Homo sapiens: one gene and its partners. The protein of the gene in region 1 purifies or fractionates together with the protein of each later gene. This does not show direct contact. Each region holds a gene or a part of one and is shown on either strand. Other genes may lie near its edges.

Region 1 (2,481 bases):
TGCTCAAGGACCATTGTTTGATTCAATCAACAAAGAGTACTTAAGCCCCCATTGTGTGACAAGGGAGGTGTAGTGCCAGGTATACAGAGGTGAGACAAACAGAGTTGGGTCCTGCCCTGAGGGGCTCACAGCCCAGCAGGGGGAGGAAAGCAATGAAAAATACATGAGATTGGCAAATGGCTCACACCTGTAAATCCAGCACTTTGGGAGGCTGAAGCAGCAGGATCACTTGAGCCCAGGAGTCCAAGACCAGCTTGGGCAACATAGTGAGACTTTGTCTTTTTTTTTTTTTTTTTTTTTTTTGAGACAATTTCACTCTTATTGCCCAGGCTGGAGTGCAATGGCATGATCTTGGCTCACTGCAACCTCCACCTCCAGGGTTCAAGTGATTCTCCTGCCTCAGCCTCTCGAGTAGCTAGGATTACAGGTGCCGGCCACAACACCCGGCTAATTTTTTGTATTTTTAGTCGAGACAGGGTTTCACCATGTTGGCCAGGCTGGTCTCAAACTCCTCACCTGATGATCCACCCGCCTCAGCCTCTCAAAGTGCTAGGATTACAGGCATGAGCCACCGTGCCCGGCCGAGACTTTTGTCTTTACAAAAAATTTTAAAATTAGCTGGGCATGGTGGTGTGCTCCTATAGTCCCAGGTACCCAGGAGGCTGAGTGGGAGAATCGCTTGAGCCTAGCAGGTTGAGGCCGCAGTGAGCTATGATGGCACCACTGCACTCCGACCTGTGCAACAGAGTTCAAAAATAAATAAATAAATAAAAATAGAAAAAGAAAATGAATTAGGAATAGGAAGGAAAATGAATTAGGGGGATAAATTCAGAGAGAGGTACCTGCCAAGGACATAGCAAAAATGGCAGTGCAGTAGGGTGTGGAAGAGACGGTTTCCAATGCGCTGTTTGAGGCCGCTCAGTGCAGTTGGCATTTGAACAGACACAAGTAGCCACGATGCGGATGAAGAGCACTCTGGGTGGAGGAACAGTATGTGCAAAGGCTCAGAGGCAGGAACCAGCATGGCAGGTCCGTGGCACAGAAGGGTGGCCAGTAGCTGGCAGGAGCAGGGTAAGGGATTGCCTGAGTGGGGTCAGTGAGGTGGCACGGAAGGGGCCAGAGCATGGGGTCTCCAGGCTCTGCTCAGAGCCTGGACTTTATTGAGGGTAACATGAGCACTCAGAAGACTTGGGGTAAGGGAGCAACACCATTTGATTTTCATTTTCCCTTTTTTGTTTTTTGAGACAGAGTCTTACTTTGTCACCCAGGCTGGAGTGCAGTGGTGCAATCTCAGCTCACTGCAACCTCTGCCTCCCAGGTTCAAGTGATCCTCCCACTTCAGTCTCCTGAGTAAACTGGGATTACAGGTGTGCACCGCCACACTCAGCTAATTTTTGTATTTTTAGTAGAGACAGGGTTTTGCCATGTTGGCTAGGCTGGTCTTGAATACCTGGCCTCAAGTGAACCTCTCGCCTTGGCCTCCCAAAGTGCTGGGATTACAAGTGTGAGCCACCATGCCCAGCCTCTTCCTATTAACCATAAATTTTTTTTATAGAGATGGGCTCTCACTATGTTGGTCAGGCTAGTCTCGAACTCCCAGCCTCAGGTGATCCACCCAACTCAGCATCCCAAAGTGCTGGGATTATAGGTGTGAGCCACCTTGCCCAGCCTTGGTTTTCATTTTAAACTTCATGCACTGGGAGGGGCTGCATGACAAGTACTAGAATAAGGGGTATCATGGGGCTGTGGGAGCTCAGAGAAGGGAGAAAAAGTCTGCTCCAGAGCAGGGGGTCAGGGAAGGCTTTCCAGAGGAAGTGACATCCATGCTGAGTCTGAGGATGAATATTCAGATGCTGAGTAGGATATTCCCAGCAGAGGGAACAGCCCCATCAAAGGCACAGTTGCCTGACGGAGCCAGGCTGAGAAAGGCCTTCAATCCAGGAGCAAAGAGGCCAAGTGGAAGCAACTGCAGTGGGAGCAAACCCCCATGGAGGTCGTCTCTCCCAGTGCCCCCGCGGAGATCCGCTCTCCCAGTGCCCCCGCGGAGGTCCGCTCTCCCAGTGCCCCCGCGGAGGTCCTCTCTCCCAGTGCCCCCGCGGAGGTCCTCTCTCCCAGTGCCCCCGCGGAGGTCCGCTCTCCCAGTGCCCCCGCGGAGGTCCTCTCTCCCAGTGCCCCCGCGGAGGTCCTCTCTCCCAGTGCCCCCGCGGAGATCCGCTCTCCCAGTGCCCCCGCGGAGGTCCGCTCTCCCAGTGCCCCCGCGGAGGTCTGCTCTCCCAATGTCCCCGCTCTGACCCCAGCCTGCTGGGATGCGGTTTCCTTGCAGACTTCCCTGCCCCCTTCACCTGGGTCACAGGCTACTTTGCCATGGTGGTGGGCGCCAGCATGACCTTCGTGGTCCAGAGCAGTTCTGTGTTCACCTCGGCCATCACCCCACTCATCGGTGAGTGCCCATGTAGAGGTGGAGTGGGGTGGGCCAGGGCT
Region 2 (8,552 bases), on another chromosome or scaffold:
GAGGAAAAAGACTTTGTTAGGGCTCCAGAGGACAGAGCCAGGAGTCAGACAGGGCCTTGAACTCAACCCACCGAGATCTGCAAACTTTGCAGGATGCACCAGATGTCTTGTAGCCATGGGTCAAGGGGGGACCCTGGGTAAGAGACTGTAATAGATGACCTCTAAGGCCATCTCATGACATGTGTGATTAATGTATGTACCTGTCCTCTCTTTTTGACAATTCTACAGATTATTCAGGACAGGGAGTTGACCAACTGCAAAGAGTGATTGACACCATCAAAACCAACCCTGACGACAGAAGAATCATCATGTGCGCTTGGAATCCAAGAGGTTGAAAGAACCCCGTCGTCTTCATTTATACTAACCATACTCTTAGAGGGAAGCAATCTGGTTTTGTGCAGAGGCACCTGAGGGAGGCAGGACCCTGGGAACTTCCCCCAGCCACATGGTTGATTGTGTGACGTTGGGCAAGTCACATTTTGCTGCACTTTCACCTTCAGATCATGAGGTTGGGCCCAGAGGATTTTTTTTTTTTTTTTTTTTTTTTGAGACAGAGTTTTGCTCTGTTGCCCAGGCTGGAATGCAACGGCGTGATCTTGGCTCACTGTAACCTCTGCCTCCTGGGTTCGAGTGATTCTCCTGCCTCAGCCTCCCAAGTAGCTGGGATTACAGGCATGTGCCACCATGCCCGGCTAATTTTGTATTTTTAGTAGAGACGGGGTTTCACCATGTTGGTCAGGCTGGTCTTGAACTCCTGACCTCAGATGATCTGCCTGCCTCAGCCTCCCAACCAGATGATCTTAATTTGTGTATTTATACTCATTCTTACACCAAAAAGGGTTTTAAATTGCCTAGAAACTACATGTAAGATGTTAACATTTTAAATGGAAGCAGATGAAGTTCCAGCTCGCTGCCACCTCACTAACATTTTTAACAATTATATTGTAAAATTCAACTCTACCAGGGTGTAGAGCCAGGTGTGGTGGCTCACACCTGTAATTCCAACAACTCCAGAGGCCAAGGCGAGAGGATCATTTGAACCCAGGAATTTGAGGCTGTAGTGAGTCATGATCACGCCATTGCACTCCAGCCTGGGCAACAGAGTGAGACCCTGAATATTTAAAAACAACAACAACAACAAAACTCTATCAGGATATCATAAGTACTTAGAGTGAAATACTTGCATCTGTAATAGAGACTTATTTTTTTTTTTTTTTTGAGACACAGTCTCACCCTGTTGCCCAGGCTGGAGTGCAGTGGTGTGATCTCCGCTCACGGCAACCTCCATCTCCCAGGTTCAAGTGAGTTCCCATTCCTCAGCCCCAGAGCTGGGACCACAGGCGCGCGAATTTTTGTATTTTTAGCAGAGACGGGGTTTCACTATGTTGGCCAGGCTAGTCTCGAACTCAAGTTGGCCTCAAGTGATCTGCCCACCCTGGCGTCCCAGTGTTGGGATTTCAGGCATGAGCCACTGTGCCTGGCCATGTAATAGAGACTTTTAATATAGGAGGGTGTACCAGAAGCACCAGTTTCCTGTGGCAAACAGAATTATTCCTGCTGTATTTGTAATCTGGTGCCACGAGGTAGCCCAGATCCCTTCAGCTCTGATGGAAGAGCATTGCTTCAGCCGTAAATGGACACCTGCAGAAACCTTGCACCGATGGATAGTCTCCCTCAGCTCCGTGCCATCGCTGCAGAGGCTGTTATGGACATCACTGCAGCCCAGTGGCTCTCTCTCCTGGTCTCCACCATATGAGTTGGCTTCTGTTTCTCTCCTGTTTTACTTTGCCTTTAGCTGTGGTCTTTCAAACCACCATCCCTCCTTATCTTCCTCTGCTGGTTCCTCAGATCTTCCTCTGATGGCGCTGCCTCCATGCCATGCCCTCTGCCAGTTCTATGTGGTGAACAGTGAGCTGTCCTGCCAGCTGTACCAGAGATCGGGAGACATGGGCCTCGGTGTGCCTTTCAACATCGCCAGCTACGCCCTGCTCACGTACATGATTGCGCACATCACGGGCCTGAAGGTGGGCTGTCTCGGGAAGGGTGACTTGCCAGCCTACCACACTGAGCTCTTCAGTTCTTTAATATGGGAAAACAAATTGCAGAGTTTAGTCTCTGATTAGCTTTTAAATTTGATATGTGTAAGTAAGAAATGAACCAGCTTTTACTTTGAAACCTTCCTCTTCTGGAAGGTTTTCTGGCCCTGTGGTATACGCACTAACAGATCTATACAGGTTGTTTGTGATACAGCTTCTATGGATTTTCTCAAAAGCTATGCTGAGGTTGGGTATGGTGGCTCATGCCTGTAATCCCAGCACTTTGGGAGACTGAGACAGGAGCAATTGCTTGAGGTCTGGAGTTCAATACCAGCCTGGGCAACATAACAAGATGCTGTTGCTACAAAAAAATGGAAAAGCTACACTAAATTATTTTTTTAAAAAAAGCCTTGCGGTGTCTGCATATTCTAATGTTTTTAAATGATGTTTTAAAGAATTGAAACTAACATACTGTTCTGCTTTCTCCCCCGGGTTTATAGCCAGGTGACTTTATACACACTTTGGGAGATGCACATATTTACCTGAATCACATCGAGCCACTGAAAATTCAGGTAAGAATTAGATGTTATACTTTTGGGTTTGGTACCTTCTCTTGATAAAAGGTTGACTGTGGAACAGGCATCTGCTCAATGCTGTGTCCAAGATAAAGATGACTGCTCCAAATGTGGGGCTTCAGTTTAGGGAGAAGTGGTGGGCAGGTGGGCAGGACAAGGCAGGCATCTGCCTCAGCAACCATGGGCACTTAACATGTCAGGTGCTGTGAGGTACTAAGCACCAGTACCAGAGAGGGAAGAGCCACATTCAAGCCAGGGGATTGTCCAAAAGGGGGCATTTTAACTCATTTTAACTTGAAGGAGAATTGAAGTGCAAATGTTTTTCCTTTTCTTTTTTTTTTGAGATGGAGTCTTTCTCTGTCGGCCAGGCTGGAGTGTGCCGTGGTGCGATCTCAGCTCACTGCAACCTCCACCTCCCGGGTTCAAGCAATTCTTCTGCCTCAGCCTCCCAGGTAGCTGGGATTACAGGCACATGCCACCACACCCAGCTAATTTTTGTATTATTAGTAGAGATGGGGTTTCATCATGTTGGCCAGGCTAGTCTCAAACTCCTGACTTCAAGTGATCCACCTGCCTCAGCCTCCGAAAATTCTGGAATTACAGGCATAAGCCACCACCCTGGCCATAAATATTTTTTGTTAATTTTACATTAAGTACAATATTTAGGTCCAAACTTCAAAAGTCTGTTGAAATCCCTAAGTTATAGCAGCCAACAATTGATATGAAATGGCAATAAAAATGTAAGTTCATCTGCTTCATGAGCCTTAAGGAAAAAAACTCAGAACCAGACACTTTTTAGCCCCTTCCAGGTTAGATCCAGGTTTTAAAAGTTACTCCTTTGAGGGAGTTTGGCTGCTTTTGAGTGGAGGTGACTTCAGGCTTATTCTCTCTGGCTCTCTGCTCTGGTCGTTTTTAGACATAGTAATAGGTTGTGACCTGTCTTCACATCCTAATTGCCACTGTCTGTTCATCCCAGGAATCCTGGCTTTCATCCCTTTCTGTTCACTGTCCATGCATGTCATCTTTCCTTCTTTCTGCCAGGGACAGATGGGTTAGGGATTGTGGAATTCAAGTAAACGTAGAGCTACTATGAGTTACAGATTGACTGTGTTCCTGTCTTTAATAAATTTGCCAAGAGTGGTTATAAGAACTTACACCTGATGAGGCACCAGGCTCCTGATGCTGTGTAATGTCACAAAATACCCCTCACTCTCGATCTGTGCAAGAGAACAGCTGGTTGCGCTCCAATCATGTTACATAACCTACGGCAAGGTATCGACAGGATCATACTCCTGTAAAATAGAACTTTGTTGATCACATCCTGTGTACTTGTTTCACGGACATGAGGAGCAATTACAACAGGTCGTACAATTATGGCAAAATAATGGCCTTATTTTGTTTTTAGCTTCAGCGAGAACCCAGACCTTTCCCAAAGCTCAGGATTCTTCGAAAAGTTGAGAAAATTGATGACTTCAAAGCTGAAGACTTTCAGATTGAAGGGTACAATCCGCATCCAACTATTAAAATGGAAATGGCTGTTTAGGGTGCTTTCAAAGGAGCTCGAAGGATATTGTCAGTCTTTAGGGGTTGGGCTGGATGCCGAGGTAAAAGTTCTTTTTGCTCTAAAAGAAAAAGGAACTAGGTCAAAAATCTGTCCGTGACCTATCAGTTATTAATTTTTAAGGATGTTGCCACTGGCAAATGTAACTGTGCCAGTTCTTTCCATAATAAAAGGCTTTGAGTTAACTCACTGAGGGTATCTGACAATGCTGAGGTTATGAACAAAGTGAGGAGAATGAAATGTATGTGCTCTTAGCAAAAACATGTATGTGCATTTCAATCCCACGTACTTATAAAGAAGGTTGGTGAATTTCACAAGCTATTTTTGGAATATTTTTAGAATATTTTAAGAATTTCACAAGCTATTCCCTCAAATCTGAGGGAGCTGAGTAACACCATCGATCATGATGTAGAGTGTGGTTATGAACTTTAAAGTTATAGTTGTTTTATATGTTGCTATAATAAAGAAGTGTTCTGCATTCGTCCACGCTTTGTTCATTCTGTACTGCCACTTATCTGCTCAGTTCCTTCCTAAAATAGATTAAAGAACTCTCCTTAAGTAAACATGTGCTGTATTCTGGTTTGGATGCTACTTAAAAGAGTATATTTTAGAAATAATAGTGAATATATTTTGCCCTATTTTTCTCATTTTAACTGCATCTTATCCTCAAAATATAATGACCATTTAGGATAGAGTTTTTTTTTTTTTTTTTTAAACTTTTATAACCTTAAAGGGTTATTTTAAAATAATCTATGGACTACCATTTTGCCCTCATTAGCTTCAGCATGGTGTGACTTCTCTAATAATATGCTTAGATTAAGCAAGGAAAAGATGCAAAACCACTTCGGGGTTAATCAGTGAAATATTTTTCCCTTCGTTGCATACCAGATACCCCCGGTGTTGCACGACTATTTTTATTCTGCTAATTTATGACAAGTGTTAAACAGAACAAGGAATTATTCCAACAAGTTATGCAACATGTTGCTTATTTTCAAATTACAGTTTAATGTCTAGGTGCCAGCCCTTGATATAGCTATTTTTGTAAGAACATCCTCCTGGACTTTGGGTTAGTTAAATCTAAACTTATTTAAGGATTAAGTAGGATAACGTGCATTGATTTGCTAAAAGAATCAAGTAATAATTACTTAGCTGATTCCTGAGGGTGGTATGACTTCTAGCTGAACTCATCTTGATCGGTAGGATTTTTTAAATCCATTTTTGTAAAACTATTTCCAAGAAATTTTAAGCCCTTTCACTTCAGAAAGAAAAAAGTTGTTGGGGCTGAGCACTTAATTTTCTTGAGCAGGAAGGAGTTTCTTCCAAACTTCACCATCTGGATACTGGTGTTTCTTTACAGATTCCTCCTTCATTTCTGTTGAGTAGCCGGGATCCTATCAAAGACCAAAAAAATGAGTCCTGTTAACAACCACCTGGAACAAAAACAGATTTTATGCATTTATGCTGCTCCAAGAAATGCTTTTACGTCTAAGCCAGAGGCAATTAATTAATTTTTTTTTTTTTGACATGGAGTCACTGTCCGTTGCCCAGGCTGCAGTGCAGTGGCGCAATCTTGGCTCACTGCAACCTCCACCTCCCAGGTTCAAGTGATTCTCCTGCCTCAGCCTCCCATGTAGCTGGGATCACAGGCACCTGCCACCATGCCCGGCTAATTTTTTGTATTTTTTGTAGAGACAGGGTTTCACCATGTTGGCCAGGCTGGTCTCAAACACCTGACCTCAAATGATCCACCTGCCTCAGCCTCCCAAAGTGTTGGGATTACAGGCGTAAGCCACCATGCCCAGCCCTGAATTAATATTTTTAAAATAAGTTTGGAGACTGTTGGAAATAATAGGGCAGAGGAACATATTTTACTGGCTACTTGCCAGAGTTAGTTAACTCATCAAACTCTTTGATAATAGTTTGACCTCTGTTGGTGAAAATGAGCCATGATCTCTTGAACATGATCAGAATAAATGGCCCCAGCCACACAATTGTAGTCCAAACTTTTTAGGTCACTAACTTGCTAGATGGTGCCAGGTTTTTTTGCACAAGGAGTGCAAATGTTAAGATCTCCACTAGTGAGGAAAGGCTAGTATTACAGAAGCCTTGTCAGAGGCAATTGAACCTCCAAGCCCTGGCCCTCAGGCCTGAGGATTTTGATACAGACAAACTGAAGAACCGTTTGTTAGTGGATATTGCAAACAAACAGGAGTCAAAGCTTGGTGCTCCACAGTCTAGTTCACGAGACAGGCGTGGCAGTGGCTGGCAGCATCTCTTCTACAGGGGCCCTCAGGCCACAGCTTACCTTGGGAGGCATGTAGGAAGCCCGCTGGATCATCACGGGATACTTGAAATGCTCATGCAGGTGGTCAACATACTCACACACCCTAGGAGGAGGGAATCAGATCGGGGCAATGATGCCTGAAGTCAGATTATTCACGTGGTGCTAACTTAAAGCAGAAGGAGCGAGTACCACTCAATTGACAGTGTTGGCCAAGGCTTAGCTGTGTTACCATGCGTTTCTAGGCAAGTCCCTAAACCTCTGTGCCTCAGGTCCTTTTCTTCTAAAATATAGCAATGTGAGGTGGGGACTTTGATGACATGAACACACGAAGTCCCTCTAGAGGTTTTGTGGTGCCCTTTAAAAGGGATCAATTCAGACTCTGTAAATATCCAGAATTATTTGGGTTCCTCTGGTCAAAAGTCAGATGAATAGATTAAAATCACCACATTTTGTGATCTATTTTTCAAGAAGCGTTTGTATTTTTTCACATGGCTGCAGCAGCTGCCAGGGGCTTGGGGTTTTTTTGGCAGGTAGGGTTGGGAGGGCCATTTTGTCACTGCCTCAGCTGGGCATCTAGGAAGCATTAGCACTGTGAGGCTTTCTCGGTACACTTTGTACCTGGAAAACAATCCGAACAGGTCCATGGGACCACAACTGAGGGAGGTGGGACACACCCACCTCCATCCAAGAACCAAGACATCTAAGGAAGCAAACCCAGATGCAGAACAATAAAATACATTCCATACTCCCCACCCAAAAAATAAAATCACCAAATGAGGTTCCTTTCAGCTATACAAATGATTTAGATGAAGAGCAGAGGATTTAGAATCAGGTCAATCTGTGTTCAGGTTCTGCGTCAGCCACTTTGTAGTTCTGAGGCTTGGGGCAAGTGACCGAGCTCTGCTGCCTGACTTCCATCGCCTGTTATTGAACAGCTGTGACAGGCAGGCTGATATGGTTTGGATTTGTTTTGGATTTGTGTCCCTGCCCAAATCTCATGTTGAACTGTAATCCCCAGTGTTGGCAGCAGGGCCTGCTGGGAGGTGATTGGATCATGGGAAGTGGTCCTTCATGAATGGTTTGGCACCCGTTCCTTGGTGCTGTTCGAGATAGTTATCACAAGATCTGTTGTTTAAAAGTGTGTAGCACCTTCCCCCCTCACTCTCTCTTCCTCCTGCTCTTGGCCATAAGAAGTGCTTGTTCCCCCTTCACCTTCCATCATGATTGTAAGTTTCCAGAAGCTGAGCAGAAGCCGCTATGCTTCCCGTGCAGCCTGCAGAACTGTAAGCCAATTAAACCTCTTTTCTTTATAAATTACCCAGTCTCAGGTATTTCTTTATAGCAGTGCAAGAATAGACTAATACAGTATAAAATAGTTCGGCTATATTAAAAGACAGCACCTGTCTACTCACTACCCCCCTGAAGAGAAAAACGGTTACCATTATTACTGAAGCCTCCTATGTACCCTCAAGGGTCCCATTTATCACTCACAGTCCTGAATTTGGTGTTTCCCTTTCCCAGTGAATGCTTTTGTGCCTTTGCTATATACTTGCAGTGATCTTTCTGTGAGACATTTAATTCCAGGAGACAAGAAAAGTGGAATAAGCAAAACCCTACGTGTGCAGATGACTGGAAGGAGATTGTCCTAATTTAAAAGCCCACCTGGGGCGTTCTGAGAAATAAGATGAAATAAATGTGTGTCTAGACCATGGAAGACTCCAGTACTGGGAAGAGGAGATGGGACAGAAGTACAGAATACACGTGATGAAAACAGGAGCTGGTTAAGGGAGTAGTGTGGCTGCAAGCCTTACCTTCAATGTACTTAAAAAATAAAGTGAGTCAGCTACCAGACCCTATCTTAGGAGGCAAAATGACCGTTCATTGGTGGGTCTCTGTGAAAGCAAAACCAACTCCGCCTGAGAGTTATAGGACATGCCAGCGGACAAGGTCTTAGTGTGTTCTGGTCATGAAGGCAGAATTTACAAGCTCTGGCCTGGATTGAGGGACCCTACTGAAACAGAAAGTATTAATGCCACATTACTGACCTATTTTCAAGGCTTGCAGAAACTGATATGTAGTCAAATATAATCAGGTGC
Region 3 (8,839 bases), on another chromosome or scaffold:
TTCCATATTAACCTGAATTTTTAAAAGTACTTTCTGCCTTTCAGGAAACCTTTGTGACTGGCATTTGATTTCTTTCTCTCTAGTGTTTTATGGGAATAATAATCTTGTGAATTTTCCAATCATTTTTATTGTGTACATGTTAAATATTTAGACTGTGGATTATATAGTCGTCTTGATTCTTATTTATATTCTGATTTTTGAACTGTTTTATAGCATATTCACACCTCCACCAGACTGCTTGAAGAAGAATGAAAGTGAAAATCAGTTTTCTTGTTCATTAACAGGTCTTCTGAGGGTTTAATACTTAAACTTCTGGCTGGCTGTCATGGGGCTGCCTGATTCTTTGATTTCACTTTATCCTACCTTTCCCTCTCTCATGAATGCAATGAATAATGACTCTAATATCTTTCTTCTCAGACGAATTAAATTGTGACTTTATTAAACTGTAATAGGCTTGCCTAATTTATTAAATTCCACCTTTTCTTTCCCTCTACTCCCTCAAAACTACTTCCTAGGAAAACTCTTGCAATCACTATTAAGAGAAAATAACTTGTGACTTAGAAAGTATTCGTATTCAACAGATAGTTGAAATCTTTGCAGATTGGGACATTGTAAGATTTAGACAAATTTCATGATCATTTGAGTTTTAGTTGCAAATTTATAATGATATAGGAAAAAATTAGGGTCCTGAGCTCCTTTTTCTTCCACATCAGCTTGTCTGTTCCACCAGACAAGGGCTCTCTTAAGTGATTGTTGTTCTGAGGCTGAAACCAAAGAGCTAGGTTGCTGACAGAGCCATGAAATCATGCTTTTCTCTTTTTAAAAACAACAGATTAAAAAAAAAAATTCCTTCTCTGTTAGTCACTTCATGTTAGTATTTATCCATGTTTAAGATTTACATTTAAAGCAAAAGTCTTCAAAGGGAAAACATGAGTTTTACTTCTCTTACAGAAGGAATTCTGTAAATTTCTACAAGTATTTTTAAATATTAGTGGGTCTCTTTCCTAATTAAGATCTTGGAAAGTTACGTGCAACTCTGACTGTTGTAACAAGCATTAAATATGAGCTTGCTAAATAAAATGAACCTTATATAAATTTACTTGTAATTCAGATAATACATAATTTTTTACATATCTTTGCTTTATGTGTTATACTGTCTTTTTCTATAAGTGGTTACAAAATTGGGGAGGAGAAATAATTTGCAGATTGATCCTCTAAATAATTAAGAGGAATCTGGAGTTAAAGTCTTTCAACACTGGAATTTTATCTGCATAGTGTTGTACCTCTATAACGTTGGATGAGTTACTTAACCTTTCAGTGCCTGTAAAACAGATAATAATAGTAATTACTTGCCTCATAGGAGTTGTTAGTAGGATTAAATGTGATAATTTAGCATAGATATGTAGCATAGTGCCTAGCAGATGGTAAGCAATGAAATGTCAGCTGATTTTTAGTATTGGCATTATCTTTGAAGAAGGGCCCATTTTAAGATTTGTTTCTCTTACCTTGCTAATAAATGTGTTAGTGTGAAAAGTTAAATAGTTCCAAGGTTAACGTGGAAATAAAAGTCAAATAAATATGTTTCTTTAATAAAGAAAAATTCACTTGCCTTTGAACATGACAGGTGTTTTTTAAATCTTCAGTTGCGTTAAGGTAATGAACTCAGATTTATTAACTGGTTTGTGTTTGTATACACAATTAATGTTAAATGCAAAATCCTTTAAAGTCTAAATGACTATTGATCTGTATTTTAAAGAATAATTTTTGTAAGCTTATTTTGATACTAAAATGCATTCCACTGTCATATTATCTAAACTTCTGGGAAATGCTAGCACAATTTTGTCTCTTTGGAGTTATATTTATTTTCATGATGAATATTTTAAAACTTAACAACCTATTGTAAACTGTTATTTTTGCAGTTATGTTTGCCTAACACACAAACACACCAAGCATGTTCCTGTCCCCAAGGTCTTTGTACTTTTTGTTGCCTTTACATGAAATCCACTCTCCCTAATTATGGCCCAGCCTTGGAGCTCTCAGGTCTGTCAGGGCTCTGCAGAGGATTACCTGGTTTTGGGGAATGTTTTCTTCTAAAATGTGGCTCTATCTTTATTATGTTTGTTGTTTTCCCTCTACCTGGCATTATGTTATATACTCGTGCTTGTTTAAAATCACTTTCCCATTAATATCCAAGGGTAGAAACTTTGTTTCATTCACTGCTGATTATCCTACTGTGTATGATAAAGCACAGGGCCTGGCACATTGTAAGCAGTAATAAATATTTGTTAAGTGAATGTAGGAATGTTGTTGATCAAATTAAAACAGTTTTGTTGAGGAGATGAAGATTCTGTGAACCAATTTTTAATAATCATTTTACGTGAGGTTATTTGAGGTTTTTATGCTCAGAAGTGAACCATTTGAAAAGATGTAATTTATAACTTTTCACCCCCCACCAAAAGAAAAGAAAAAGAAGATTTAAATTTAGAATACTTGGTACATAGTGTGAACTGAGAGTTAAGAAAGGCCTGATTGAGAATACTGACTCAGCCTAAAATATCAGTGATACTGTGCAGTAATTTATCCTGTTTTCTTACCAGGAGCTTGCTCAGTGCCTAACACTGATAGTCAGTAAATGTTTGTTGGGTGAATGAATGAGCCTGTAAAATCAGTAAAGTCATGAACTAATTCCTAGTTTCTTACAGAGTATCCTAAGGACCCTTGAATAAATGCTTCTGGAATAAAATGGATGGAAATTTGCAACAGAATCACCTGGAGGGCTTGTAAATACTGTCTGTTAGGTTTACTTTTTCCACCCTGTGTTTGAGGTGGAGCAAAGGACTCTTAACTTCTAACAAGTTCTGAGGTAGTGGATGTGATGCTGTCCTCCTTTCAGAAGCTTTGCTGTATATCTGTATTCCTGTTGAGGTGATTCATGTTAATGTATTGAAGGTTTTGAGAGCACTGCAGTAGAGGAAGCTGTTTAACTCTTAACTATTTCTGACTTACTTGGCCCTAGTCCTCTCCCTCACTTGTTCGTATGTATGTATGTATGTATGTATGTATGTATGTATGTATATATGTATGTATGTGTGTATGTATCTATACTCATAAAATTGTTTTTTTTTTCTTTTTTCTGTATGCTTGGGTAGGTAAATACTGTGTCAGGAGTGAAGCCTTCAAAACTGAGCCCTGTTGCAGAGTTGGAAGATATTATGATAGTTATGATCTGCATGAAAGCATTTGTATACATTTTTGAGTCTTGCAAATTGTAATTTGGAATAAACGGCATGTATAACAATAATGATTTTATGAAAATTGATTCCAAAATGATGAAATGATTTCTAAGTAACATTTTTCCCCTTTATTCATTTATCACTTTCAGTCATCGTCGATGGTTTTAATCTGCCAAGCCATATTTCCAGAACTTTAGGTACTTGACAAAATTAGGAAATAATATTTTGTCATGAAAAGTTGAGTTTTCTCTAGATGAAGATTGAGTCTTAGCTAGTGTCAAATTTTTCCTAGTTGTATTTTCAATTTTAGGCTAATCTAGTCTCATGGTACAGCATTCTACTTTGCATGTCTTAGATTTTGTTGACTTAATTGTATTTTAAAATATGATTGTACTGATTCTGGTCTTTTAGAGTGATGGTTTTGATACAAGATGTGGCTAATCAATGGAAAAGGGATGTTTGAGGAAGAAGTGATGATGGTTATGAACTCTAGAGATGTTAAATGTAGCACAAAATTTGAATCTGGGATTCTTTATGTTCCCTAAGGCTGTGGATCTTTCCATTGATGAGTCCAGCTTGACAGGTGAGACAACGCCTTGTTCTAAGGTGACAGCTCCTCAGCCAGCTGCAACTAATGGAGATCTTGCATCGAGAAGTAACATTGCCTTTATGGGAACACTGGTCAGATGTGGCAAAGCAAAGGTAAATTTTTTTCCTGATTTGAAAAAAGCAGTTCCTTTGTTTGAAACTATTTTCTCAATTATTTTTTGCTGATTTTATGTGGAATTTTTCAAATACATGACAAAGGATAAAATTGAACTTAACCCATTACATCTATTTGTGAAACTGGGGAGAATCTGTGTCCCCAAAGTATAATATTTCCGTAGTTCTGCTATTTCCCAGATAATGGATAATCCTCAATACCTGTTTCTTTTTAAAGAGAGAAACAGTGTTTTCATGGATGTGTTTATTATTAAATAAATTTTAATTTAGTTAATATGATACTGGCTATAATAATCTGACTATATGTTGTTCACCTGTTGATCGATTTCAAATGCTTCCTTTCCTGAATTCTGATACTCCACCAGTGCAAAAGACACCATTCACTAGGGGTAAAAAGAAACTATATTAAATGTCTCCTATTGAGTATAATACATGTTTGTATTTCAGAAATACTAATATAGGCAAAAAATAGGCCTCAGAATTGAGTCTGCTATACGTTTTTTTTTGAGACGGAGTCTCACTTTGTCGTCCAGGCTGGAGTGCAGTGGCGTGATCTTGGCTCACTACAACCTTCACCTTCCAGGTTCAAGTGATTCTCCTGCCTCAGCCTCCTGTGTAGTAGGGATTACAGGCATGTCCCACCATGCCTGGCTAATTTTTTGTATTTTTAGTAGAGATGGCATTTCACCATGTGGGCCAGGCTGATCTCGAACTCCTGACCTCAAGTGATCCACCCGCCTCGGCCACCCAAAGTACTGGCATTATAGGCGTGAGCCACAGCACCCGGCCAGCAATACGTTTAATGTAATGTTTGTTTCCAGAGTTTAAATCATAAGGGGCAAATGCTAATGACAGGAACATAAAAAAGTAAATTTGCTGAGGAAATCTTAGGAGTGTGTATGTTAGACATCTTCACTGTAGGTAAGACTTTGAAAGTTGTTGGATGTGTGTGTGTATGTGTTTTGGTTTACATTTCATCTGGATGTAAATGTATTTTCCTGTTTTTCCCCTTAGGGTGTTGTCATTGGAACAGGAGAAAATTCTGAATTTGGGGAGGTTTTTAAAATGATGCAAGCAGAAGAGGTGAGTACTTAATATGTTAATGATGTATTTGTTCCAAATCTGAAATTCTTCATTGTAAGTAGAGAATGTTGGATTATTTTATATACTATTGAGAGCAATATTTTATTCAGAATGGAAATCAGTTGTCTCTGTTTAGAAACATAATTGGAAAGCCTGTAATTGAAAAGGTCTAAATTGATGTTGTTAGTATTCTAAAGGATTTTGAGCTTTACTCATTGTTTATAGCAGAAAAAGGCTTATAGCCACTTATTTGTAGATCTTATTATTTTCAGAAATTAGTGTTGTGGTAATTTTAAGGATTAGTAATTAGTATATTTGTACCTTGGAATATGTCTTCTATCAAATTTTTTCAACTTCACATAATTCCAAGTAAGGGTGGCAGGGAAAAGATTGCCAAGTAAAATAACCTACAAGATATTCTCGGCTAAAAGTATTAAAGATGAGTTCATTTTAAATACTTTCTTATTATAAAAAGAAGCTTCATTCTGCAAATGTCGTGTTCTCCCCAAATCCTCTGGATTTCTCAGGTAACCTGCCAAAACTCCAGTATGCGATGCAAAGTGGGAACTCATTCCAAGAGGCGTGGCAGTGAAGGGATGAATAGAGAAGAGGGTTAGCAGTTGAGGGAGGATTAAAAGACCTGGGTTACTAGCATGTTTGTGGATACCAAAAGGGAAAAATTGGAAAAGCAAGTGAGAGAGCAGCTGATGGTAATGAAGTCCTGCAGTGGTTGGTAGGAGGGAGAACAGATTTTTCCTCAAAAGGAAGCATAGAGAGAACGGACCTTTTCAAATAATAAACAGGTTTTTAAAAATAGAGAATTTCTGTTCCTCACTGTGTGACCTTGGGCATTGTGTAAAATCTAAGTCTCAGTTTTCTCAGTGAAGGTGATTATTTACCTTATGGGAGAGTTGTATGGTTAACTTAGGAATTGCTTTGTCAAGCACTTAGCAAGCCCCTGGCACTTGATAAAGCTTAGTAAATATAGCTAATTGTGGTGACACTCTTCTTCAATTTATCAAGGCACCAAAAACCCCTCTGCAGAAGAGCATGGACCTCTTAGGAAAACAACTTTCCTTTTACTCCTTTGGTATAATAGGTAAGAGAAGAGTGAGTATGTATATATTTTTATTTGAGTTTTGTTTTTTGAATGTGAAGGGTGGTGGTATTCTAGTTTTATTTATTGGCTTTTCTTTTTTTTATTAAGTTTAATACTTTTTAAAATTATAAGACTACTAGTAGCCATTGTTCATTTCAACAAAGAAAAAATAGAACTCTGATTCTTGTAATCAGAAAATATTTCTTGAAACATTTTAGTATTTGTCTTTCTAGTCTTCAACAAGAATGTAATACGATAGTTTTATGGACTGCTTTTCTATTTTTATTTCACATATCCTGTCATAAAACTCTTGTCATTAAATTGATGGTCACATAAAACAAACATAAAGGTTGTATAGTTTTCTATTTTGTGGGAAAACATATAAGAAGACCTCTTCTAGACATTTAGGATTTTTTGAGGGTTTTTTTTTGGTCATATAAATACTTCTTTAGTGTGGTGTCTTCTGGTAAATACCTCTCTTTTTTAAGGAAAAATTCTTAGAAATAAAATTATTTAGTCAAAGGGGATCCATGTAACTTTTAAATTTTTGGCCAGCTTTAAGTATTGTCATTAACTTCAACTGTAAATAAAAGAGTTCTCATTATTTGATTTCACAGTTCATTATTAGGGAAACCGAATGCTTTGTCATGTGTGGGTTGATCATTTTTATTTCATTTTATGACCTGCCAACGATTTCTTTTGTCCCTTTTCTTGTGTCTTGAGTCTTAGATTGATAAAAGCTTTTTATATGACTAGATTATCAATCTTTTTGTTGTATAAGTTTTTTTTTCCCGTTTAAGTTGCCTTTGAGGCATGTGGAATAAACTTGGTAAGAGGACAATATATGTAATTAACCATTTATGCCTAGTGTTCCATTATTGGAATGCTAAGCATGTGGGACTTATTTATATCCTACTGCTCAAGGTCATTGCCAAGGTCTGGTTGCAAAAATTCAAAAAATTGCAACCTCAGACACAAATGGGTTAAAACATCCCCTTTTCCTTGAGATTCTGTTATCACCCTCCTATTGATAATCTCTGCAATTAAGTTGGTTTTGTTCTGTTCCTAAAGATTTTCCCAACCTCATGTTTATAAGAACATTTATTAAAACATTGTTGTATAGTTTTTTATTTTTGACATTTTACTATTTTATTTAAAATTTATTTTAGTACATGGCTTAAGGCAGAGTTTTAACTTTTTTACTCAAGTTAATTATCCCATTAATTCTGTAATCCAGTCTTTATTCATTGGATTGAAGTCACGTTTTTATCACACATTAAGCACTTGCATTAATTTTGGAGTCTTTTCTCCTTTAATTTTCTTACCGTGTTAATTATTCCAGCTAGTTTAGTATTTCAAAGTCAGTAATACAATTTTTTTATTTGAGATGGAGTCTCATTCTTGTTGCTCAGGCTGAAGTGCAATGGCGCAATCCCGGCTGACTGTAACCTCCACCTCCTGGGGTTCAAGTGATTTCCCTGCCTCAGCCTCCCGAGTAGCTGGGATTACAGGTGTGCACCACCACACCTGGCTAATTTTTTTATTGTATTTTTAATAGGGACGGGATTTTACCACATTGGCCAGGCTGGTCTCAAACTCCTGAACTCATGTGATTGCCCACCTCAGCCTCCCAAAGTGCAGGGATTACAGGACTAATGCAATTTTAAAGCAATATTTCTGTTAATACAATATTAGTTGAAATAACTTTGTAAATAGTAATTCTGTTTATCCATCTATCTTCATTGTAAACATAAAGTAGAAGGTAGGAAGTTATCTTAGTTATTTTTGTTTTACTGGTGTGTATGCCCTCATAACTTCTTCCGTTTGATTATTGCTCATTTTCTAGAAATTTTATAGTGAATTTGATAGATCGAATGACATTCTAGCCAATTAAATCTTTGTAGTTTCTATTAGCACTATACCATAAACCATTTCAAATTTAGTAATAAATATGTTTCAACTTTACGATCTCTGGTTATATGTTAGTATATTACATTGGACATAATTTTTCTTGCCAAGGTCAAGAGCTAGATCAGGGGTCAGCAATTGTTTTTTTTTGTTTTTTGTAAAGAACTAGATAGTAAATATTTTAGTCCATATGGTCTCTGTTGGAAATACTTTACTTTGCCATTAGCATGAAAGCAATCATAGAAAATATGTAAATAAATGAGTGTGGCTATGTTCCAACAAATTTCATTTACCTAAGCAGACAGGAGACCCACAGATTATAGTTTGCTGACCCCTGGTATAATCCTTTGGACATAATTTCTTTCATCATGATAGTATTTGGGATAGGATCTTAGAAGGTTGCTATTTGGATAATTATTCTTTAGTTATATAAAGATGAAAAAAAAAACTTGTCTTAAATGTTCATATTGATTTGCAGTCTTGAGATAGCTTATTTTATCAAACCTCTCGTGAATCTGTTTGCTTTTTCCTCACAAACCTGCTTGTGCGCCCCTTTCCCCCTATTCTTTTCAAAGATAAAAGGTTAAAGCAAGGAGTATTGGTTTAATTGATTTTTAAATTTTTGAAATGCCATAAAAGTAGTGATTTTTAGATGTTAATGCAGTTGTAGGTGCTTAACGTAAGGCACATCACTTTTTGAGCCAAGTCGTAAGTGTCCCTTTGTGTGTAGTATGGATTTGCTGAGAAGTGTCTGGATATTGTGTTATGGAAAATAAAGTTTTAGGGTTTAATT
Region 4 (8,839 bases), on another chromosome or scaffold:
TATCAAGGGACCTAATGTGTAATATTTTACCCAGGCTGGAATACAGTTGTGCAATCTCAGCTCACTGCAACCTCCGCTTCCTGGGTTCAAGCGATTCTCCTGCCTCCAAGCGATTCTCCTGCCTCAGCCTCCTGAGTAGCTAGGATTATAGGCACTCACCACCACAGCCGGCTAACATTTTTTTAATTCACCCAGGCTGGAGTACAGTGGCGCAATCTCGGCTCACTGCAACCTCTGCTTCCTGGGTTCAGGCGATTCTCCTGCCTCTGCCTCCTGAGTAGCTGGAATTACAGGCACCTGCCACCACAGCCAGCTAACGTTCTTTTTAAAATATTGTTCTCAATCAAATTTTTATTTTATTTTTTATTGTATTTATTTATTTTTTTGAGACAGAGTCTTGCTCTGTCACCCAGGCTGGAGTGCAATGGTGCGATCTTGGCTCACTGCAACCTCCACCTCCCGGGTTCAAGTGATTCTTCTGCCTCAGTCTCCCGAGTAGCTGGGATTACAGGCACCAGCCACCATGACCAGTTAATTTTTGTATTTTTTAATAGAGACAGGGTTTCACCATGTTGATCAGGCTGGTGGCAAACTCCTGACCTCAGGTGATCCACCTGCCTTGGCTTCCCAAAGTGCTGGGAATACAGGCGTGAGCCACCGTGCCCAGCCCTCAATCAAATTTTTAAAAGAAGGCTGTCAATTAATGTCTTGGTACTACATTTTGTCTTTCTCAGCTAAAGTTCTATTATTGCTTATAAAACACTAATTTATTTTTTAATAAATGGGCAGTTATTGACTCAGTATAACATTAGAATGGTATCTAATTAATTATAGTTTAGATAATGTCTTATTTTGAATGTTTGGTATGAATTTAAATGGTAACTTCATATCTGAAAGCAATGATCAACTGAACATGAGTTCCCAATATTCTGTTTTTCAATTTTAGATAATTTCATAGAGTTTTTAAGCATATTCTAAGTTAAGGAAGAAATACAGTAATATAGAGATTAAGAATGCAGACTCAGAAATTTGAGTACCTGAACCCAAATGCTAGCTCTGCTGTGTATTAGCTTCGTGACCTTAAGCGAGTTACTAAATCTCGAGATTAAGTGAGAATAATAGTTCTCACCTCCTACTTGTGAGAATTAAATGAGATAATGTACAATGCCTGAAACACAGTAAAATTTTAAAGTTTGCTATTATGTTATTATTCTGTACTATTAAGTGGTTGTTGCATGCATACACATATACATAGACACACACAAGGTACAAAGAGGAGTAAAAAAGCAGGAACAATCGAACAATTCCGCCTACAAAAGTCTAAGAAGTTGTCATAAAAGGCAGTCCCTTGATCTGGGCTTTGAAGAATGATTGGAAACTTGTTTGGAAAAGAAATATATATGATTCCAGGCTGAAAAAGTAACATGAGCCAAGGAATTTGTATAGTCTTGAAACTAGGAAAGAAAATGAGGCAGAATTCTGACAGACCTGGAATGTCATGCTGAAAAATTTAGACTTATCCTTGAGGCAGTTAAGAGACATGACTTTTAGTAAACCTGGCAGTCGAATGATTAGATCTGCTTTGGAGAGTTAATTATGGTCATGGCAGAAAGAACAGATTGAAGCAGGCAGGGGAGAGATCAGAGATGGGGAGATCTACCTGAGAATGATTTCCTTGAGAGACAGCAGCCATCTCTGATGAGTATTTGCTGCACCTCCAAAAGATAGAGTTGCTTAGGCAGAATATAGACAGCATATTCCTGAATTTTATTTTTTGTGGATTTAAAACAACAAACTCTGTGACTTTGTTTTCTTTGATTGGTCTTTTTCTAATATGGAATTTCAGAATTACTTGTAATTAGGTCAGAGTTCTATTTAGGTTCTAATTTAAACATTTTAGAGTTTTAAGTTTTATGTAACTTGTCTATGAGAATAGTAACCATGGTTTTTGAAACCTTTGTCTTTCTCTATGGTATGTAGCACATAGCAGGTATTGAGTAAATTTGTTGTTAAGCTAAAATCCAAACTGAACTCCATAAATGAGACCATATCATTTATTTATTTTTTAATTTTAATTTTTGTTGTTGTTGTTGTTGACGAGTCTCGCTCAGGCTGGAGTGCAGTGGCACAATCTCAGCTCACTGCAGCCTCCGCCTCCCAGGTTCAAACAGTTCTCCTGCCTCAACCTTCTGAGTAGCGGGGACTACAGGTGCACACCACCACGCCTGGCTAATTTTTTATGTTAGTAGAGACAGGGTTTCATCATGTTGCCCAGGCTGGTCTTGAACTCCTGAGCTCAGGCAATCCGCCTACCCCTGCCTCCCAAAGTGCTAGGATTACAGGAGTGAGCTACCATGCCCGGCCATTTATTTATTTATTTATTTATTTATTTTTAATTAATTTATTTTTTTGAGATAGAGTCTCACTCTGGTACGGTATGGATTTAAATGGTAACTTCATATCTGAAAGCAATGATGAACTGAACCTAAGTTCCCAATATTCTGTTTTTCAATTTTAGAGAATTTCGTAAAGGCTGGAGTGCAGTGGCATGATCTCGGCTCACTGCAACCTCCATCTCCCAGGTTTAAGCAATTCTCCTGCCTCAGACTCCCGAGTAGCTGGGACTACTGGTGCATGCCACCGCACCCAGCTAATTTTTGTATTTTTAGTAGAGATGGGGTTTTGCCATGTTAGCCAGGCTGGCCTCAAACTCCTGATCTCAAGTGATCCGCCTCCCTGGGTCTCCCAAAGTGCTGGGATTACAGGCGTGAGACACTGCGCCTGGCCAACCATATCATTTAAATTACACAGAGTCTCTAATTCATAATATGTGGCTAATCCTTATATAATCCCCTGGGCCAGTGATTCTTAACCTGGGAGAATTGTTCCCCGAGGGGACATTTGGCAGTGTCTGGAGACATTTTTGGTTGTCTCAATGTCATAACTGGAAGAGGGGTTCTACGAGCATCTTGTGGGTAGAGACCAGGAATGCTGATCTACATTGCAGAGAACATCCTCCCTTGTGTCCCAACAAAGAATGATCTGGCCTAAAATGTGAATAGTGCCAAGGTTGAGAAACTGTGCTGTAGGCTATCAGTAATGTTGTTACAATCGCATAGAAGTGGTTTTTTTTTAATGCCCCAATAGTATGTTTCAGTTTCTTAACACTTAAAAATAAATAAAATTGTAAATAACTATGAATAGGTATAGGCTAGATAGGATAGAACCATTCCCACTGAAACGTATTTAGTGTAGTGAAATGAGGGAGACACTTCCTCTTGATGTATTGGCATTCTGTGTGCCACAGAATGTTGAAGGTGGGTATTCCTAGCATGTCAGTGGACGTGGGAACTGAAGGTACTAGATAGGCAGCTATGGTGACAGGTAGGAGGCAGCTACTGGATATTCTGCAAATAGATTGGAATCTTATTCATTCTAGATTTCAAATCTCAGTATTTTCAGGACAAATAGTATATGATACTATGGGCCTAATATTTGTGGTTTTACTACTTTTTGAAGGATATCAAGAGTTGATCCAATATTAACATTTCAGAAAGACTGAAAAGCTTTATTATCTAATAAGATCCAGAGCTTATTATCTAATAAGTTCAGAAAAATTATAGTAAAAAGCACCACATAATCCAAACATGAGTTTTGATATATAGATGAATATTTACATTTATTTATAAAAATAAATATATTTTTCATATATAATCGTACTTAGAACACAGTAGATGCTTGATGTATAGTTTCAATTTACTGAAGTTTTAAATGTCCTTTAAATTTTATTTTAATTATATTCTTTCAGTTTTATTTTAATTATATTCTTTCAGATCTACCAAATCTATTCAAAGCGATCTGCTGAGGATATTTATAAAATACTGACATCTTACAAAGCTAATTACCTAATTGTAGAGGATGCTATCTGCAATGAGGTGGGACCCATGAGAGGCTGTAGGGTTAAAGATTTATTAGACATTGCAAATGGCCACGTAAGTAACCATTTGGAAAGTTATATATATGTATATATATATATTTTTTTTTTAGAAAAATGACTTTAAACTTATAATCTTTAAACTTTATTTTTAGAACTTAACTAAGAATATAATTGAGTTATGTAATAATGGGGAAAGCTTCTTAAAAGTAGTTTGGAGTATTTTTTCAACATACAAAAGAAAATCTGGGCATTTTTGCAAAAATAATAAAAAATAATAATGGTATTACCAATACTGGAATTCCTTATTCATTGCCTGTACTTATTCAGGTTTCAACATTCATAAACAAAAGATGGCATAATTTGATTTGAATGATGATTTTATTTTATTATAATAATCTAAAGAGCAACTGGTTACCTTGTTATATTCTTATGTTGAGAAATTTCTTGTAATTTGATTCATATCTAGAAAAATTGCATGCTAAATTAACACAGTGCCTGTACATTGAGTCCCTATTATCCACAAAAACGAATGTATTAAAAGCCATGTTAGTTGTTAGGACTTGGCTGTATCTTAATTTCTATATTGATTTCGGCTGTTTTACCAAGCTGTGTTTTCCACAAGAAGACCACCTAAGACTGACGCACGCGCGCGCGCATGTGTCTTCCCCCCCAGCCCCCATGGCCTTCCAATGAAGGCAGTGTGTATATCTGAGACTTAATGCTAGCTGGAATGGATTCTTGACTCCTGAGAAAGCTGGGAGTGAGGGATCATAAGAAAAGTTTAGTAAGTCATTGTAAGTGGTAGTAGATATACTATTCAGGTTGCAGCCAAGATTTTTTCTGTCTTTTCCTAAATAATCATAGCTCTTTGTCTTATCCAAGATCAGTTTGGAGGTAAGAAATTACTTTTTGTGATTTCTACTTATCTTTTCCTCATGACCCCTTAATCTTGTAATATAAACTTACTCTGTTTTATGGTACATGTATTTTGAATTTCTCTGTTGGTACTTAGTGGCTGTGATCTTTGGTTTACTGGTGACACAAATGGAATTTTATGAAGCCTCGGGTACAGTTTCAGTAATTGGTGCTGTCTTGCTATCTGCTCTCTGAAGCCTTTCTATTCTGCTCTGATACCCACTTTTCTGCTGTTTTGAAGATCAGCTTACTTCTCCTTTCATGTCATGCCTGGCATGGACTTAAGCTAATCCATCCTTTTAAAGTTGGCTATCTGACATCTTTCATAGCCATTAAAATATTACTTAATTTTTTTTATAAAAACTTCTTCAAGCTAACTAAGCTATCTTAGTGAACATCATTCGGTGAAATTGTAAAGGTCTGCACTAAGTCACGAAAGTTTCCTTGCTTACTAAATAATTCTACACGAGAAGAGTGAATATATTTAGGAATATAATATGTTCATTTCTCAGCCTTGGTAGGGTGCATGATAAGGTCTTCGGAGCGATGATAATGGATTATGGAAACACTGCCTTCTAAATTTTAGGATTAAATCTTTTAAAAATTGGAAACCTTTGTGCTGGTTTCTCAGTGTCAATGAGAAGTTCAGGAGTATAGTGGGCATGGTGACTCACTTATGAAGAAGGCTTCTATTTGCTAACAGTGAGATGTTTTATAGACAATGTTTAGCAATAATGTGTTTTTTCATATAAATATACTCATTTGTATATTGATTGCATTTCTGCTATAAGCTTAATAAGCTTTTTAATATTATGTTTTATATCTTTTAATAGATGGTTTGTGAAGAAGGTGACAAGCTAACCTACTCAAAATATGGGCGATTTTGTCATGAGGTCAAAATTAACTATTCTCCATATGTGAATTATTTCACTAGAGTATACTGGAACAGATCCTACTTTGTATATAAAATCAACACTGTGATATCCTTCCAGTCTTGAAAAATAACAGAGCCTTCATTTCAAAGACTACCTGAAGTAAAATGCAGTTTTCTTCTACCTACTCGGTGTCTTTTGCAGATCAGAGTATGGACATTTGAAATATTGCTGCTTCTTTCCCCCTTCTGCTGTTAACTGGATCCAGAGTTCTGTGGGAAATAGAAGATCAAGCATTACTGTCCTTTGATTAAATGTGATATCTACCACTCTGCAATATTCCAGACAGGTGTCTTCCTTACCGTTACATGGTCTTTAACACTTTTACTGATTGCAATATTTTCCCCATAAAATCTTCATTCTATTATAATATTGATCTTGAATTTGAATATGTGCAAGGTCAGATACATTTCTCAAACATAACATTTAATAAATAATGTGATATAATTATTTAATAGAAAGAATAATTCCGACCTTCAAGCAAGTTTCTGAAGGTATTTTATGATGTATAACAACTGAAGTTTTACAATAAAAACTAATTTAAATGTTAGCTGAAGATATGTGGCATTTAAATTAAAATGGAAATTATATAAAGGAAAGTGATTTTTAAGGATATACATAAAGATATATTTAGAATTTTCATGATACTGTTCTCCTCATCTACTGCTTATGTTAAGTGAGAACTTTCTTAGTAATACATAATGCATGATGTTACTGCATTTTCTAAATGACTAGTAAGTGATTAGTTTTTTCACTTATGCCTATTAATTTGATACCAATTTAATCATGATAAAACAATAACCGTTAACATATATTTTGTTAAATGGACATTTAAAAGAATGTTGTTCAGGTTTTTTTTTTAAATACTGATATGGGGCATACAATCTATTCACATGTTTTCTACTGAAGTACTAAGTAAAAAAATTAAATCATTATCAGAATAAAAATATGTGTTCTAAAATTAGCAACAATTTCTGGGGATACATGCAGATGTTGTTAAACGTACCTCTGCATACAGATATATTATAAAACACAAGCAATGTTATTTATGAAACTGTGATGCAGTCTTCAACATCAAGAAAAAATGACAACTATAATAAAATTTACAACACAGTTTCACAGTCTAAATGCTATGTTCCTTTAAGTATTTTCATATTTTTAATCATTTATTAAGAGAAAATTGTGAAAAGTTAATTTGGCCTTATAGAGAGATTCAGGATAGATGTAGCCTATAGATGTGTCATTTTAATAAGTTGGGATACATGTTTAGTTTTTCCTTATATTCCTGTTCAGTGAACAGATTTTCATAATTCTCACTTGTTAAAGTGCTGCAAAAATTGCATTTTCAGTACTCTAAATTACTACATTAGAAGAGAGCATTTCTCCATTGTCTTTATTTTCTGTTATATATGTGTTGTAAAAGTACACTACATTAGAAGGGAGCTTTTCCGTTGTCTTTATTTTCTGTTATACATGTGTTGTTAAAGTACATGCATTCTTAGACTAACTCTCAGATGCTTTGCTCTTTTGGAGCTGAAGAATTGTTTGATGGTGATGTCATATATCTGATAGATTAGTTTCAGTGGTTCTCATTTCACTTTTATACGTAATTTCTTAACTATATTAAGATAGTTGCAGGCAGTGTACCTCAGGTTGACTCTGTACATCTGAATAGTGAGTCACTAGTATTTTGCTTCAAGCCTTCTGAAAATATAACCATAGTTACCTAAGCACACAGTGAATAGTCACATGGTAGTACTTGTGATTAGAGCATGTAAAACAATGTAATTGAAAAGTCAGCTTCCATATTTTGTAGGGGAAATAGAACACCCTACTTTTTATCTAGTGTGAAATATTTAATCGAATTTTTGTTGATTTATATTATGTTACCTGTGCTGAATTAGGTTTGGTACTTGTGTTTTGTTTGACATATTAGTAAGTTGCTTTTGCTTCTTTCTGTCAACTTATTTTTTAAATAAAATTGATCTGGAAAAATTGTTAATGGGATGTTTTAAATAATGAATTTTTCATCCAGCATCAGTTGAAAAGGAAAAGAAAGCTTCATTATGGAAATGACAATATTGAATATGACAGATAAGTTTATTTGCTTCTGTTTTAACTGCAGTTAATAGTACTAGACAACTTTAAGTGGAAAGCATTTAGTTTATTTCTTCACTTATTTGTAGAGTGAACAAATGATTCACAATTCTACAAGTAATTCCACTTAGGTAACTTACAGTTGTTAGGTTTGACAATAAAGATCTACTATGAGAGGAGAAGAATTTATGGGTTTTGGGTGGAAGGAATTTCTCAAAGAAATAAAAAATGTTCTTTGCCCTTGATACTGCAAACCCACTGATACAAGTGCCTTGAATTTATTATTATTATTATTTTTTATTTTTTTGAGATGGAGTTTCACTCTTGTCTCCCAGGCTGGAGTGCAATGGCGCGATCTTGGCTCACTGCAACCTCCGCTCGCTGCAACCTCCGCCTCCCAGGTTCAAGTGATTCTCCTGCCTCAGCCTCCGGAGTAGCTGGGATTACAGGCACCTGCCACCAAGCACGGCTAATTTTTGTATTTTTAGTAGAAACGGGGTTTCGCCATGTTGGCCAGGCTGGTCTCGAACTCCTGACCTCAGATGATCCACTCACCCCAGCCTCCCAAAGTGCTGGGATTACAGACGTGAGCCACTGCGCCCGGCGCAAGTCTTTGTTAAAAGTAGAGATGGAGGCCAGGCGCAGTGGCTCACTCCTGTAATCCCAGCACTTTGGGAGGCTGAGGCAGGCAGATCACGAGGTCAGGAGATCGAGACCATCTTGGCTAACACGGTGAAACCCCGTCTCTACTGAAAATACAAAAAATTAGCCGGGCAGGGTGGCGGGCGCCTGTAGTCCCAGCTACTCCGAGGCTGAAGCAGGAGAATGGCGTCAAGCGGCGAGGCGGAGCTTGCGGTGAGCCGAGATCATGCCGCTGCACTCCAGCCTGGGCAACAGAGCAAGACTCCATCTCAAAAAGAAAAAAAAAGTAGAGATGGGATCTCTAGCCTCCTAAGTT

Evidence for each region.
Region 2: the proteins of SLC34A1 (region 1) and TYMS purify together in Homo sapiens (affinity purification with mass spectrometry; one large-scale study listed by BioGRID and IntAct). This does not show direct contact.
Region 3: the proteins of SLC34A1 (region 1) and ATP2C1 purify together in Homo sapiens (affinity purification with mass spectrometry; one large-scale study listed by BioGRID and IntAct). This does not show direct contact.
Region 4: the proteins of SLC34A1 (region 1) and DPY19L4 purify together in Homo sapiens (affinity purification with mass spectrometry; one large-scale study listed by BioGRID and IntAct). This does not show direct contact.

What each region holds. Positions count from the first base shown.
Region 1 is NC_000005.10:177,394,410-177,396,890, forward strand, and holds part of SLC34A1 (sodium-dependent phosphate transport protein 2A), read left to right. Parts: intron 1-2,323; coding exon 2,324-2,440; intron 2,441-2,481.
Region 2 is NC_000018.10:668,844-677,395, forward strand, and holds the end of TYMS (thymidylate synthase), read left to right. Parts: intron 1-228; coding exon 229-330; intron 331-1,474; exon of another isoform or gene 1,475-1,848; coding exon 1,849-2,024; exon of another isoform or gene 2,025-2,536; coding exon 2,537-2,608; exon of another isoform or gene 2,609-4,016; coding exon 4,017-4,154; 3' UTR 4,155-4,735; downstream 4,736-8,552. UniProt on the Homo sapiens protein: Catalyzes the reductive methylation of 2'-deoxyuridine 5'-monophosphate (dUMP) to thymidine 5'-monophosphate (dTMP), using the cosubstrate, 5,10- methylenetetrahydrofolate (CH2H4folate) as a 1-carbon donor and reductant and contributes to the de novo mitochondrial thymidylate biosynthesis pathway.
Region 3 is NC_000003.12:130,950,042-130,958,880, forward strand, and holds part of ATP2C1 (calcium-transporting ATPase type 2C member 1), read left to right. Parts: intron 1-3,779; coding exon 3,780-3,935; intron 3,936-4,970; coding exon 4,971-5,039; intron 5,040-6,062; coding exon 6,063-6,138; intron 6,139-8,839. UniProt on the Homo sapiens protein: ATP-driven pump that supplies the Golgi apparatus with Ca(2+) and Mn(2+) ions, both essential cofactors for processing and trafficking of newly synthesized proteins in the secretory pathway.
Region 4 is NC_000008.11:94,784,061-94,792,899, forward strand, and holds part of DPY19L4 (probable C-mannosyltransferase DPY19L4), read left to right. Parts: intron 1-3,833; coding exon 3,834-3,992; intron 3,993-5,685; coding exon 5,686-5,850; 3' UTR 5,851-8,839. UniProt on the Homo sapiens protein: Probable C-mannosyltransferase that mediates C-mannosylation of tryptophan residues on target proteins.